Linked DNA regions of Homo sapiens. The protein of the gene in region 2 purifies or fractionates together with the protein of the main gene of each other region. This does not show direct contact. Each region holds a gene or a part of one and is shown on either strand. Other genes may lie near its edges.

Region 1 (8,005 bases), on a different chromosome or scaffold from region 2:
CTCCCATTAAGAGGCATTCTTCTTTCCACTGTGACCCTATTACATGTCAGTCACTTTATATGCACTAGCATCTTAAGATCACCCTCTAAACATAGTTTCATTAGCTCCACTTTATAAATGAGGGCACTAAGGCTCAGAAAAATTAATACTTTTCTAATGGTCACACTAATAAGTGGCAGGGTTGGCGTCAGATTTGAATTGCAATCATGGGACATTAAAGCCTGCATTCTTTCTACCCTATTGCTTGATCAAAGAATATAGTAGGAAAGTTCTTGAAGGTAGATTTTTGGCAAGATTGAGTGAGTGGGAAATTTTTTTTAAAGCCAAAAGATTTTAAAAATTGATTTTTACATTTTGAAAATAAAGGTGTAAAGTACAGCTTCCATAGTCACATCACCAAAATTAACTCAAAAATTTAATCAGAAAAGTTATGTCATCTACAGGGTATTTGAACAACCAATTGGACTCATTACTCATAAGGGGTGGGAAGATTGTTGGGGAAGGTCCACTCATCGGATAGAAGTCAGGTTATGGAGACTGATTCACCAGTCATTAAAATAAGAGCATGTAACATTGCATAAACTTATTTTTTTTCAGGTCATCCCAAAGAACAATGCAAACATTGTTCTCCATAGTCCGAGAAACACATGTATTTATTATTCGTATTTTATAAGTGAGGAAAGAGACACCAGTGAGTCAACTGCATAGCCTCATCTAATGCTCAGACTACATAAATACTGCAATGATAAGATCTTAAGTAACAAATTGGAGAAAAGAATGTGATGCAGTAAATGCCAGAGTGTTTCGCTGGTCTTATGGCTTCCTCGAAGACAGAATTAATTTCCTACCCAATTCAGTGAAGAATTTTAGACTATGAAAATTGTTCATGAGTATGGGAAGGAAACTCCCTCTTCACTTCTTGGTCCCCAAACTGCACAAAGCTTAGATAAATCAAAATCCTGAGAAGCAGCACCCAAAGTGGGAGGATCAATTGGCTTTTCAATACCTAATGGGTCCATCAGTGCTACATTTCCATATAGTGTTTGCATAACTGGTTCTAACATATATCCACCCTCTCTAACCAACCACCACCCTTAAAAGTTGACTACAGACACATATACACACTTGTCCAGCACTTGCTCCACAGAATATAAGGCCTGGAGTAAACAGACACCACACCTTGTATATCACTGAATCTGGATTATGATAGACAAGAAGTGGAAACAAGCTCTAGAAGTGTCCCAAATCTCCTGTGCCATTTAGGCCATCGAAGCCTGACAGTGAGAGACAATGAAGAAAAGCCACAGGCAGGTGAAAATCCAGTAACTTTGGCAGGGCGGAAGCTGAGGAATTTATCTGATGCTGGATACTCACAGCTTCTGGCCAATCAGGCATCGGGGATGACGTATTTTCACATTAGATATAGGAGGAGGAGAAGAGAATGTTGTAATCATGGATGTTAACTCACTAAGAACTGAATGCTGGGCCTAGTTAAATCCCTGTAGGAAGTAAAATACACAAGACTAGTGACCCATTGACTAATACACAGTCACAGGTCTATGGCACGCGGTTGTAATGTTCTTCTGAAAACAGAAACTAATGCTAACCTTCCCTTAAAACCTGTACAAACCAATAAGTGAAAGCCATTTACAATTTCTGGCCATTTAACAGTCTTTTGGTTCAATTTATTGTGGCAAAAATAGCACACATTTCCTCTACTTAATCTTCCCTGTGAGAGAAACTGAGACTGGGAGAAACTGAACTGCTAGTATTGAGTTTGATATAAAACGTTCCTGACAACACATAATAAACCAAAACCAAAATAAAAACAATAAGAAGCAAAACATCCTTGATTCTAAAGCAGTGCGGTCCAATAAACATATAATGTGAACACCACCACATACAATTTAAAATTTTCTCGTGGCCACATAAAGTAAAAAGAAACACATAAAATGAATTTTAATCTTATATTTAACCCAAGATATCAAAAATGTTATTTCAGCATATAATCAATAAACAAATAATAAAATATTATAAGTTCTTTTTTTAATAAATACTAAGCATTCGAACTCTGGTATTTTACACTTAGGTCACACTTCAATTCGGACGGGCACATTTCAAGTGCTCAATAGCCACCTGTGGCTAAGAGCTACCTACTGGACAGTGCAGCCCTACAGCCCAATTTCAAAAATAAGGAAAAAACAAAGCAAACAAAACCCACACCCACTATATATAAACACACATCAATTTCAGTAAACCCAGCGTTTAGAGTTAGGCAGTGATTGCTGATTTTTGGAGTACGGAGCCAGAACGCCTAGGAGTAAGAGGGAAGGAGAGAAAGGGTAATGGAGAGATGTGTGGAGGAATGCAACTGCTGCATCTCCAGAGAAGCCTGTGCTCCCTACGGTGCCAGAGCTTGAAGGGTGGGTGCTCCCTATCTCCCAAGCTTGAAGGGCTCCCTAGAGGTGACGAGGTGAGGCCGGCCCCAAGCGGTCACTGCCATTTGGGCTCTAGAGCCCGCTTGTCAGGGGGCTTGAGGGGATGCAGGAGTTGAGGGCTCTTCCAGGGAACCCCAGTGACTGCCTACCTGTCGAGCAGCGGAGTGTGGATGTGCAGGTGCTTCACGGCCACCTGGACGCGCCAGTCTGCGTGGCGGGCGGACGACACAGTGCCAGAGGCGCCGCGGCTCAGGTAGCGCAGGTCGGCGAGTTTGTGGTAGGGAATGGTGGGCAGGGCGCTGCAGATGGCCTCCCCGTTCATGGTCCCGGGCGCTCAGGCCGGTTCCGGGTGTGCCCCCTGCTGCGGCGGCTCCCAAGGCTCCCACGCCGCGCTCAGGCGCCCAGATACGCCCCTGCACGAGCGAGGCCGGCAAGACCCTTTTTGCCCCGCAACACTAGGTCACGAGGGCGCCCATTCCCCGGATGGCCCACGCCAGCCGCTGCTTCTCCGAACCAGAGCTGACTTCTTTTCTAGAGACTGGTGCCAACGCCGTAGCGCCGCGAAAGAGCTTCCTCTCTCGCAGCCCCGGCCCTCCCCCCGGCGCGCGCAGCGACCAGCTCCGGCCGCCCGAGCTCCTCCCTCCCCAAACTTCGCAGGTTACGTCAGCGGCGGACGGCAAGGCGGGGAGAGGGGCAGCCCGCTCGCGGCCCTCCCGCCTGGCTCTCGCCTCGGCCTGCGGCCGGGATCCTCCGCCCGGGTCGCGCAGCGGAGGCCGAGGGCTGGGACGGGCGGCTGGGAAGTGGGAAAGGGAGCTCCTTTTGTCTTCTCTTCCCATCCCCCAGGTTTGGGAAAGTTTTCCTTTTGGGAAAGCCCCTCTCTTCAGCCTGCTGGCGGGTGTCGGATTGGTTAGCGACCACCGGCCCCCGCCTCCCCCAACAGGATTCTCCTTTGGGCCACAGGTCTTCCGGAAGTTGCCAAACCCCGGTAGCGGCAGCGTCCGGCTGGGGGCTTTATTAGGGGGCACCGGGGTCTGCTTTCCGACTCCCTTCCGACTCCGCGCCTGCGCAGGAAGCGATTTGGGGAGTGTTGTGAATTCCGAGGGCTCCACACTTAAGAGGTTGTACACTCACCTGTCTACCTGGACTCCAATTTCCATATTTCCAGCCACTTGAGGACTGAGAGGTGGATGATAAACCCTGTCATAGTGGAGCAAGTTCAGGTGTTTAACCGCTGTTATGGGGGATCTGCCTTTTCTCCCTCTTCTTTCTTACTTCCATAAGTATGTATGTGCAGAGATTGAAAAATAACCTTGAGAGAGTCCATCCATCTAACTCCAGGTAAGACTGCAAATATTTCTTTCTTATAAATCTGGGAGGAATGCAGTCAGTGTTTCATGCCAACCAAAAAAGACTGCAAACGTTTTTCCATCCTTCTGCCTTGAATACCTTTCTACTTAGATGACTATTTTGTAAGACGTGAGTGCAAATGTTATATACAATACCAACTCCATACTAGATGTTTAATTAATTCTAGGGATTCAGTAATAAGGAATGACTCGAACAGATTTCTGCCTACAGACAGCTAATGCTTCTTGTATTTTTGCATTACCTGAAATGAAAGTAGCAATGTTAGATTTTACAGTAGTGGGAGGTTGTAAACAATAGTATGTTAAACATTTTTGATCATTTATAATAAAATGTTCAGCACTAAACATATGGTCTGATACTCTGTGCTTTATTGCTTAATAAGCTTTTTTTTTTCTTTTCGAGAGGGAGTCGTGCTCTGTCACCCAGGCTGGAGTGTAGTGGCGCGATCTCTGCTCTGCTCATTGCAACCTCTGCCTCCCTGGTTCAAGCAATTCTTCTGCCTCAGCCTCCCAAGTAGCTTGGATTACAGGCGCCCGCCACCACACCCAGCTAATTTTTGTATTTTTAGTAGAGACGGGGTTTCACCGTGTTGGCCAAGCTGGTCTCGAACTCCTGACCTCGTGATCCGCCCACCTTGTCCTCCCAAAGTGCTGGGATTACAGGCGTGAGCCACCGCGCCCGGCCAATAAGCTTTTTTCTTAAAAAGTACTCAGAAGACTTTTCTATCCATTCATTCTGTTAACGCGCGTCAGTGTGAAGAGACCACCAAACAGGCTTTGGGTGAGCAATAAAGCTTTTAATCATGTGGGTGTAGGCCGACTTAGTTCGAAAAAGGAGTCAGCAAAGGGAGATAGGGGTGAGGCAGTCTTTATAGGATTTGGGTAGGTAGTGGAAAATTACAGTTAAAGGGGGTTTTTCTCTTGCGGGCAGGGGTGGGGGTCACAAGGTGCTCAGTGGGGAGCTCCTGAGACTCATTGTCCAGGAGAAGGAGTGTCACAAGGTCCATTGATCAGTTAGGGAAGGGCAGGAACAAATCGCAATCGTGGAATGTCATCAGTTAAGGTAGGAACTGGCTATTTTCACTTTTGTGGTTCTTCAGTGGCTTCAGGCCATCTGGATGTATACGTGCAGGTCACAGGGTATATGATGGCTTAGCTTGGGCTCAGAGGCCTGACATGTTTATCCAGTCAATTAATTAAAAACCTGAGTCCTAGAAAAAGAGAACAAAAAATAAACAGGGAAGAAATGATCAAAATAATAATTTAAAAATTTTTGCTAGGGCAGGAGTCTTCATATTTAAAGGGCCCACCAAGTAAAAAGACCTACATTAAGGCACATACATCATTAAAAGGGTGAGAACACTAACACTAAAGGGAAGATTCTAAACGTTTTCAGAGGGCGGAAACAAAAATTAAAGAGATGGGAATTAGAATGGCATTGAATTTCTTAACAATGTTACTAAGTCATTGTTATCCTGAAATATAATGAAGTGAAATTTTTCCAATATTCTGAAGGACAGTAACTTCCAACTTAGAATTCTATAGTCAAACTTTCCGTCAAATGTAAGGGCAGAATAAAAACATTTTCACATATACAAGAATGAAATACTTTCTTTCCATGTCATTTTTTTTTTTTAAAGAAAGCTCCTAGAGAATGTGTTCAGCAAAACATGGGAGTAGCCCAAGAAAAAGAAAGACATGAGATCCAGAAAACCGGACCAGGAAATTAAGAAGGGAAACTCCAGGATGAGAGAAATATGGCAGAATTGGAGAGCAACCCATTTTCACTGAACAGGGAGATGGCAGACTTCAAGAGAAAACAGTAGTTACAGTAATTGAAATGATAGATTATCTAATTTTGAGTATTTGAGAAATTATATTGATAGATGTTTGATAGATCTAATGAACTATGGGATAAAATTGGAGAATGAATTGTAAAAAAAAATACAAGTAAAAAAAGGAGACAATTGTTAATTCCATGAAAATTACATCAGAAGGGAGACAACATTTCTCTAAACTGTTTTGTGGTGGTGAAAAATGTAGAACTTTTCAGAACTTTTGAAATGCTAATATGCATCTCTAAGAAGGAGAGAGCATGAAGCATAGAACTTCATGGAATTTATTTGTATTGTTAATTACATTACTTTTAAATTTACTTTTTAAAACCATATCACATGGTTTAAAATTTAAAACAATAAGGACTCATAATGCAATAGAAAAATTGAGAAGAGGACTTAGATACCTTGAAAAAGAGGTGAAAAGGTTCTCAACATCATTAATTATCAGGGAATCACAAATTTTATTCACATTGCAACACTACTATCCAAACAGTAGAATGAATAAAATTAAAAAGACAGAATATACCAAGTGTGAGTGAGGATTTGGAGCAACAGGAGCTCTTGTACACTGCTCATGGGAGTGTTGATTGGTTCAATCAATTTTGTAAATTGTATGTCAGTATCTATTAAAATTGTAGATATGCAGATCCTATGACCCAGTAATTCCTTGCTTCGGTATGTGGACATGTGTATGCATCTACTAGAATGTTCATAGCAGTGGTGTTTATAATAGCCTCAAACTGGAAATTACCCAGATATCCATAAATAGTAGAATAGATAAATACATTTTGGCACATTTATGCAATATAATACTAAATGGGAATGAAATTAAACAGTGTACAAATATAATGTTGGATGAAAAAAGCCAGATACAGAAGAGTACATATTGCATGAGTCCATTTGTATAAAGTACAAAAATAAATAAAACTAACTTATGCTTATAGAAATCTTCTCTCTAGTAGGGGAGAGGCATTGATTAGAAGGGAATCATGAGGTATTTAGGATGATGGTAATGTTCTATTTTTTGATTCAGGACCTAGGCTGTAGGTGCCAGTTGCATGGGTGTGTTCAGTTTATGAAAATTCTTGGAGATTACACTCACATTCACTTTTCTGAATATAGTACTTCAATAAAAAGTTAATTGGTTTAAATATAAAATAAACATGCACATATATATAGGCATATATTGTATATGCATATATAAATATAGATTTATATATTATATTACTTCTGTTTATATTTATATATTTAAAATATATAAATATATTTAAAATATATATATTTATTTTAAATATATATTTTAAATATATATATTTATTTTAAATATATATTTTAAATATATAAATATATATATTTTAAATATATAAATATATATTTTAAATATATATAAATATGTATATATAAATATATATTTATATATTAATATATATATATACTATGTGTGCATGTTTACATTTAATTATATATAAATTATATATAAAATATATATATAAAATATCTGTCCCTTTTATGTAATTATTATAACACTATATACTCGTCTACTTTGCTTACTTTTCACTTAATGTATCTTGGATATCTTTCCATATGAATGCATAAAAAGCTCTCTTATCTTTTTTATTTTCTAGACGCTGATGGATATACCATAATTTATCCCCCATTGATAGGCATTTACTTTGTTTTCACACATATGCTATTACAGATAATGCTGCAATAGTTAATTTTTGCTTATGTTATTTCATACATATATATCTACGTATTCCAGAAGCCAAATTGCAGGATCAGAGTATGTTGGTTTGTAACTTTGGTTGATGTCATTGAATTGTTCTTCATTGAAGTTATACTAATTTTCTTTTCCTGTAGATGATGAAAATAGCTATTTCTCCACACACTTACTTTCCTTCCTTTTAAAGATGGATAGTACGTTGTTGGTCTGCTGATTCCTGAAGTGTTCGGTGCTTCTAAATTCATGTAAATGCTAAGATTCTTTTTATCACAAGCCTTCTAAATATTTTTTAATCACCACCTTAAACCTTTAGCTTTCATGATAGGTTTTACCAGTATACAGTTTTAAAAACATATATTATTAGTCATATATGGGAATTAATTAAATTATATATTTCTTCATATACATATAGTTCAATTCCCACAATTAATTGGCTAAAGATAGAAAGTTTAAGGGATATCGATGCTGAAATACATCAACTAAACAAGAAAGAAAATATTAGAATATTTACGCAAAGTAGGCTTAAAAAACAAGAATCACATCTATATGTTGATTTCATCTGTTCAAAATTCTATAAAATTACATCAATATTTGTTTTTCCGTGAGATAAGGGTTATTTATACCTGTATGTATTATTTT
Region 2 (7,722 bases):
ACCTTGGATAAGTGGAGACTACTGTAGTCTTTCTCACATTGCATTACTCTTTATTCTGCATCTGTCTTATTCTTTTTCCTTTCCTTTTATTTTTATTTGTAGTAGAGACAAGGTCTCACTGTTGTCCAGACTGGTCTTGAACTCCTGAATCTTCCTGTCTTGGTCTCTCAAAGGGTTCGGGTGCCCTGCCATCCTTCTCCTACTTTTAAGGCCCCTTGTGATTACATTGACTCCATCCAGGTAACTTCCTTATCTCGAGTTTCGCTAATTAGCAACCTTAATTCCCTCTGCAATTATAATTGTCCTTTGCCACATAACCTAATTTATTCGTAGGTTGAGGGGATTAATACCTTGTTATCTTTGGAGACAGCCATTATTCTGCCTACCACGGGGACTATGAGAAATGAGGTCAGTGTAGAAAAGGTAGGACAGGTGTCAACCATTAAGGAACCAAGCAGTGTGACAGGCATTATGTCAGTCTCTTTACTCCAGACATTCCCAGAATTGAAGACAGGAGAGAATTATTTTTCCTCCTCTCTCTAGTGTTCGGTGGTTCTTTTTGGTGTATGTCAAACCATGTAAATTTTGCCCTGATCAAGTAAACCCTTGGCTTTCTTTAAAGAGGTCTATGAAGGCTAGTCAGACCCTCCAATTTTCTATACAATTGCTAGGTTTAGGTCAGGGCTAGTGACTGTATCAACTTTTTTTTTTTTTTTTTTTTTGAGACAGGGTCTCACCTGTCACCTGGCCTGGAGTGCAGTGGTGCCATCGCGACTCACTGCAACCTCTACCTCCCGGGTTCAAGCAATTCTTGTGCCTCAGCCTCCCAAGTAGCTGGGACTACAGGCGCACGCCACCACCACGCCTGGCTAATATTTTGTATTTTTAGTAGAGACAGGGTTTCACCATGTTGGCCAGGCTGGTCTCGAACTCCTGACCTCCAGTGATCAGCACCCCCTCAGTCTCCCAAAGTTCTGGGATGACAGGTGTGAGCCACCACGCCCAGCCAGGACTAGATCAACATCTGAAACGGATGATCTAAGGCTGTTAGCCTAGGCATTCACCCCCTGACATTTTGCTTTTTGGCAGTGATAGAAACTATGTTAAGTCCTGCATCCATGGTTCTGATACAATCAAGTCTCTTGACCACCAGGACTCAGCACTGAGACCTGCCTCTTTTTATTTCTACAATACATGAAATTACTGTTGACTTTTGTCTTTAAAACATCACATAAATTCATTAGGAGCAATTCAAGGGAGAATTTACTGTACATTCATACCTATGATAAAGTTTAATTTATGAATTAGCACGGTAAGATTAACAACAACTAATAATAAGGCTGGGTGCGGTGGCTTACACCTGTATCCCAGCACTTTGGGAGGCTGAGGCAGGCAGATCACCTGAGGTTGGGAGTTCGAGACTAGCCTAACAAAACAAAACAAAAAAAGCTCAAAAAACAACAATAATAAAATAGAACACATTTAAAACTTTTAATCCTGTGTTATTATTCTGATTTGAGGTCTATACTTTCAATTTTGTACCTCCTGGCTATATTTTATATAATAGAGAACATCCTGGTTACACTCATCCTTCCCCCACCTCACTTCCTTTGCATTCTAAGGCTGTGGTATGCAAATTTCTGTTATTAAGAAACAATTTTTTTTTTTGAGACGGAGTTTTGCTCTTGTTGCCCAGGCTGGAGTGCAATGATGCTATCTTGGCTCACCGCAACCTCCGTCTCCCGGGGTCAAGTGATTCTCCTGCCTCAGCCTCTCAAGTAGCTGGGATTACAGGCATCGACCACCATGCCCGGCTAATTTTGTATTTTTAGTAGAGATGGGGTTTCTCCATGTTGGTCAGGCTGGTCTTGAACTCCCGACCTCAGGTGATCCGCCCACCTCAGCCTCCCAAAGTGCTGGGATTACAGGCGTGAGCCACCGCACCCGGCCATCAACAAACAATTTAAACTAGACAGCCTGGCATGGTGGCTTACACTTGTAATCGCAGCACTCTGGGAGGCTAAGGTGGGAGGATCACTTGAGCCCAGGACAGCCTGGGCAACATAGAGAGACCCCATCTCTACAAATAATAAAAAAAATATGGTTCACGCCTGTAATCTTAGCACTTTGGGAGGCCAAGGCGGGAAGATTGCTTAAACCGAGGAGTTCGAGACCAGCCTGGACAATGTAGTGAAACCCTGTCTCCACAAAATTTTTTTTTTAAAAAGAGCTGAACAGGTTGGCGCAAGCCTATACTCCCAGCTGCTCAGGAAGCTGAGGGGGGAGGATTGCTTGAGCCCAGGAGTTTGAGGCTGCTGTGAGCTATGATTGCACCATTGCACTCCAGTCAGGGCAACAGAGTGAGACTCTGTTTCAAAACAAAACAAAAGGAAAACTTGTAGAAAGAAGTTTAAATTTCAGTGCTAAGTTTCCCACTTCAAGTGAACACTTTTTTCCCATTGGCTTTGAAATCTCAGAAAGGTTACTGTGAGAAAGGAGCATATTTAGGGTTGAGCATTGGAGAGGAGACTGGTGGTTTGGGACACCTGTTATTAAAGTACCTTCCTGGTCAAGTTGAACAACAACAACAAAAAATTGGCAATCTTTATGACAGTGCCAATCAAATTGTGGACATGAGGTGGGATGCATCACTTGAAAGCCATACTTTTGAGATACATATTTTAAAACTCTTACCTAGAGTATAATGGTGGTTACCAGAGAGAGGCTGGGAGTTGCGGGGAAGGGAAGGGTGCTGGTCAAAGGATACAAAGTCACAGACAGGAGGAATAAATTATAAGTATTGAAGGTGATGTATATGTTAATTTGAGTGAATCATTCCATACTGCATACATATAAAATTACTGAATATCCCATAACTATATATGATTATAATTGGTCAAAGTAAATAAAAATTTTAAAACTCTTCAATTTTATAAAACTCTTACCTAATATTAATTTTTAATATCATATGAGGATTTTTTTTTTTAAGAGCCTAGGCTAGAGTAACTTACTACAACCTCAAACTTCTGGGCCGAAGCAGCTCTCCTGCCTCAGCCTCCTGTCCCAAGCAGCTGGGACTACAGATGCGCACCATCACGACCAGATAATTTTTAAATTTTTTGTAGAGACAGGGTCTTGCTATGTTGCTCAGGTTGGCCTCAAACTCCTGGTCTCAAGTGATCTTCCTCAGACTCCCAAAGTGCTGGGATTACAGGCATGAGCCACCTCGCCCAGCCAGGATTTTAAAATTCTTTTTTAACCTTGGAGATACCAGAATTGTATTACTCATTATCCTTGGTTCCTAATAGCATTGGTTCATGCATGTTCTGCTTTTATTTACATATTAGCTATTTACCTTTAACAATATAGTAGCCCTGATAGGCCCAACTCCTACATTGTAGGACATCCATGATCTCCTCCCCAATCCCATCCCATCCCCAAGCTCCCCATATGCGAGGTAACCATCATTCTGAATTTCATATTTATCATTCTTTGCTTTTTGTTTTGTATAATTTTAATGACTTCATGTATACTCTTAAATGTAAGGGTGTGTTTATTTTCAACTTTTAAAAAGGTTGTCATACTGTATATAATCTTTTGGGATTTACAGTTTTTCCTTACTATTGTTATGATTTCTCTATATTGTGGGTCACTGAAGTTCATTCTTTTTGAATGCCATGTAATATTATGTTATAAGAAATATCACAGTTTATTCATCCAGTATCCTGTTGCTAGTTATGCAGATCGCTTTCAGGTTCTTGTGAACTATGAAGGAGTAAATAAAGACCAACCAGGTAATTTTCTTAAAATAAATAATAATAAAAAACCAAAAATGTAAAATATTAAATAGTAATGTTTAAAGTGGAAGTATAAATCTCCCTGTAGTCATATTCTCAGAGATAACCAGTGTTAAAATTTGGGATATCTCTTGTCTTCTTTAAAATATAATGCATATCTGCATATACATATTATATACATATACTATATACACATTAAGTTTTTTAAAACAAAAATGAGATCTATAACTTGCTGTTTCCATAGCAATATATCATGGATATCATTACTTGTCAATATGTAGAGATGTACTTTATCCTTTTTAACAGTTCTTTGGTGTTTCACTGTCGACATGTCAATATTTATTCCCTAAACCCCAACTTTGGTTATTTTCAATTTTGTACTGTTGTAAACAATGTTGTAATGCAGATTCTTGTACATACATCTTCGGGCATTTGCTCAATTATTTCCTTAAGATAATTTCCTAGAACTGGAATTGCTGGGTTGAAGGATATGAAGTTTTATTTTTGTCTGTCTTCAACTTTATTTATTTATTGCTGTATATTGCCATATTGCCCACCAAATATCAATTAATAATTTACATTCTTGGCATCATAGTATAGTTCTCTGAGCAGGGAATACCTAGTCCAACCTGAAGTTCAAGAGCGACTTCTTGGAGGAGGTGACCCTGGGTCTGAGTCATGGTGAGAATTTATCAAGACTTCAAAAGAGCAGATAAATAATCCACAAGGACCCCGGATCAGAGAGTGCTCCGAGCTGGGTTGCCCCACTGTGCTTGTATCTGCACTCTCCAACACTAGGCATCATTGACATGTTAAAGCTTAGCCAAATAGAATTGTTCTTTGTCATTCTTTTTTTAACTTTTACTTATTCATTAGGATGATTTCATAATATATTTCCTGGTTTAGAGGAAACAGGAACAATGGCTACCGAGAGTACTCCCTCAGAGATCATAGAAAGAGAAAGAAAAAAGTTGCTTGAAATCCTTCAACATGATCCTGATTCTATCTTAGACACGTTAACTTCTCGGAGGCTGATTTCTGAGGAAGAGTATGAGACTCTGGAGAATGTTACAGATCTCCTGAAGAAAAGTCGGAAGCTGTTAATTTTGGTACAGAAAAAGGGAGAGGCGACCTGTCAGCATTTTCTCAAGTGTTTATTTAGTACTTTTCCACAGTCAGCTGCCATTTGCGGCTTAAGGCATGGTAAGTTGACTTTGTATACTTTTTGGGGTGAGAGGAAGGGGGCAGACTTTCTGAAAAAGAAAACAAAATGAAAGAAAATTGTTGCCTTTTATTTTTGTTAGTCTTTTTCTGGAGATAATTTTCATTGAAATATGAAATAGGGAAAAACTGGAATTTAAAAAGTTTCTGAAATTTAACATCTTATTGGTCTACTGAATCGATAATTTGTTTTTCAGACTGTACTCAAAACTTGAAGTTGTTTTAGTGCTAACAAACTGCTCATTATTCTGGCAGTAACATGCTAAAATCTCACAGTTGGAAGGAAAATACTTTAATAATAACACAATCCAGGGTTTGTTTTTCAAGTAGATGAATTCGTGGATATTTACAGTGCCAAGACCACAAGCTGTATCTTTCACTTAGTATAGCCGTTTTGAAAATACAAGGAAAATAATTTTTAACACATAGATGGCAAATCAGTAGTTTCATTTTTTTGGTGATAAGAATGCCAGCAGCAGCTGTTTTCTGGAGCAATTCCAGTGCTAATTCTTAAATGGTTCAAAGATAACTAGTAGTCCATGAAAAAGCAATTCTTCCAGTTATTTAGCAATTCTGTAAATTACTACTAGGACTAGGTCTAGCTCTTTTTCTAGGAATCTAAAAAAAAATTCAAAATTATTTTAAGGGATGTTAGAGAGGTAGAGGCTCAGATAAAAAGGTGAATGTTAGTGATACCTAATTTAGGACAAGATTTATATGCTTAGAAATTTTTCTTTTATTATTTCTAAAGCACACTATTCCAAATAGAGCCATTTGCTTACTGATTAGAAATTATTTGTGATCAGATTTCATTAGCAATGACCCCAAGAGACGTGAGTCTGTTGTGAGTCACAGTAAGTCCACAAGTAAACACTGTTCATATGATTCAAATTTTTCGTTTTATTCACTTACCCTGTAAGGTTGCTAGGAAGGACTCAAACTTTAAGCAAGACAGTGGTGTGATCTGATTTTTTTTTTTAGTGGAAAAAAGAAAGTTCTGAAAGTTGACATGTTGACATGCAAGTTATATAGGAGGTGTTAGGTATTCCTGTCCTCCAGTGAAATAAGAGGTGGCTGGGCGCTGTGGCTCACACCTGTAATCCCAGCACTTTGGGAGGCCGGGGCAGATGGATCACCTGAGGTCAGGAGTTTGAGACCAGCCTGACCAACATAGTGAAACACTGTCTCTACTAAAAATACAAAAATTAGCTGGGCATCATGGCGCATGCCTGTAATCCCAGCTACTTGGGAGACTGAGGCAGGGGAATCACCTGAACCCGGGAGGTTGAGGTTGCAGTGAGCCCAGATCGTGCCATTGCACTCCAGCCTCGGCAACAAGAGTGAAACTCTGTCTCAAAAAATAAATAAATAAATAAAAGGAGAGGGATGAAGCTTTGAGGCCTCAGGAACTCTAGCTGTTATACAGCTTCTTTTTCTTAATTGGGAAAAACAATTCTTTTCTTTGCAGAAGTTTTAAAACATGAGAATACAGTACCTCCTCAATCTATGGGGGCAAGCAGTAATTCAGAAGATGCTTTTTCTCCTGGAATAAAACAGCCTGAAGCCCCTGAGATCACAGTGTTCTTCAGTGAGAAGGAACACTTGGATTTGGAAACCTCTGAGTTTTTCAGGGACAAGAAAACTAGTTATAGGGAAACAGCTTTGTCTGCCAGGAAGAATGAGAAGGAATATGACACACCAGAAGTCACATTATCATATTCAGTTGAGAAAGTTGGATGTGAAGTTCCAGCAACTATTACATATATAAAAGATGGACAGAGATATGAGGAGCTAGATGATTCTTTATACTTAGGAAAAGAGGAATATCTAGGATCTGTTGACACCCCTGAAGATGCAGAAGCCACTGTGGAAGAGGAGGTTTATGATGACCCAGAGCACGTTGGATATGATGGTGAAGAGGACTTCGAGAATTCAGAAACCACAGAGTTCTCTGGTGAAGAACCAAGTTATGAGGGATCAGAAACCAGCCTTTCATTGGAGGAGGAACAGGAGAAAAGTATAGAAGGTATGGAAATATCTTGTATAGTTAGTTAGGCAACAACTTAATAAGTTAATAAGCTTGCCATGACATAATGGGGATGGGGGATGAAAAAGGGACAGATGTCAGCAGAAAATCAACTACTAAGAAATTCCTCGTGCCTCTCTGACCTGGAATCTCCTCGAGGTAGGTGTTGACTTAAAGGAGCTCCCAGGACCTAGGAAATGATGGACAGCATAAGCAAAAGTAAATATTGATTGTCAGTTTGTAAATTTCTGTAGTTCGTATAAGGAGTTGCCAATCATTAATTTCCCATTATACGTACGAGGAGTTGCTAATCATTAATTTCAGGCTAACCTATTTCTCAGGTTAAACCACTTTAGTTATTTTAGTGCCTTTGTGACCAGAGAGATATGGGGATTATGGGTTTGACTATTTAAGTGAAAACAGTCAGTAAATGGCTAAGATCCCAAAATATTGTTACTTGGCTTGATCCAGTCCACATAATGCCATCTTGATGAGAATTATATTTGTATCTTGAATCTGAATATTTCTTTATTTAAAAAAAATTTGTTTTTAAACAGGGTCTCACTCAGGCTGGAGTGCAGTGGCACAATCATGACTCACCGCAGCCTCTACCTCCCAGGCTCGGGTGATCCTCCTACCTCAGCCTCCTGAGTAGCTAGCATTACAGGTGCCTGCCAC

The links. Proteins that work in one complex are often made in the same cells at the same time.
Region 1: the proteins of CARD6 (region 2) and RIPK2 purify together in Homo sapiens (affinity purification with western blotting; 2 studies listed by BioGRID and IntAct, with this or other methods). This does not show direct contact.

The regions. Positions count from the first base shown.
Region 1 is NC_000008.11:89,752,816-89,760,820, reverse strand, and holds the start of RIPK2 (receptor-interacting serine/threonine-protein kinase 2), read right to left. Parts: upstream 3,006-8,005; 5' UTR 2,761-3,005; coding exon 2,588-2,760; intron 1-2,587.
Region 2 is NC_000005.10:40,836,666-40,844,387, forward strand, and holds the start of CARD6 (caspase recruitment domain-containing protein 6), read left to right. Parts: upstream 1-4,701; 5' UTR 4,702-4,717; coding exon 4,718-5,000; intron 5,001-6,486; coding exon 6,487-7,044; intron 7,045-7,722. UniProt on the Homo sapiens protein: May be involved in apoptosis.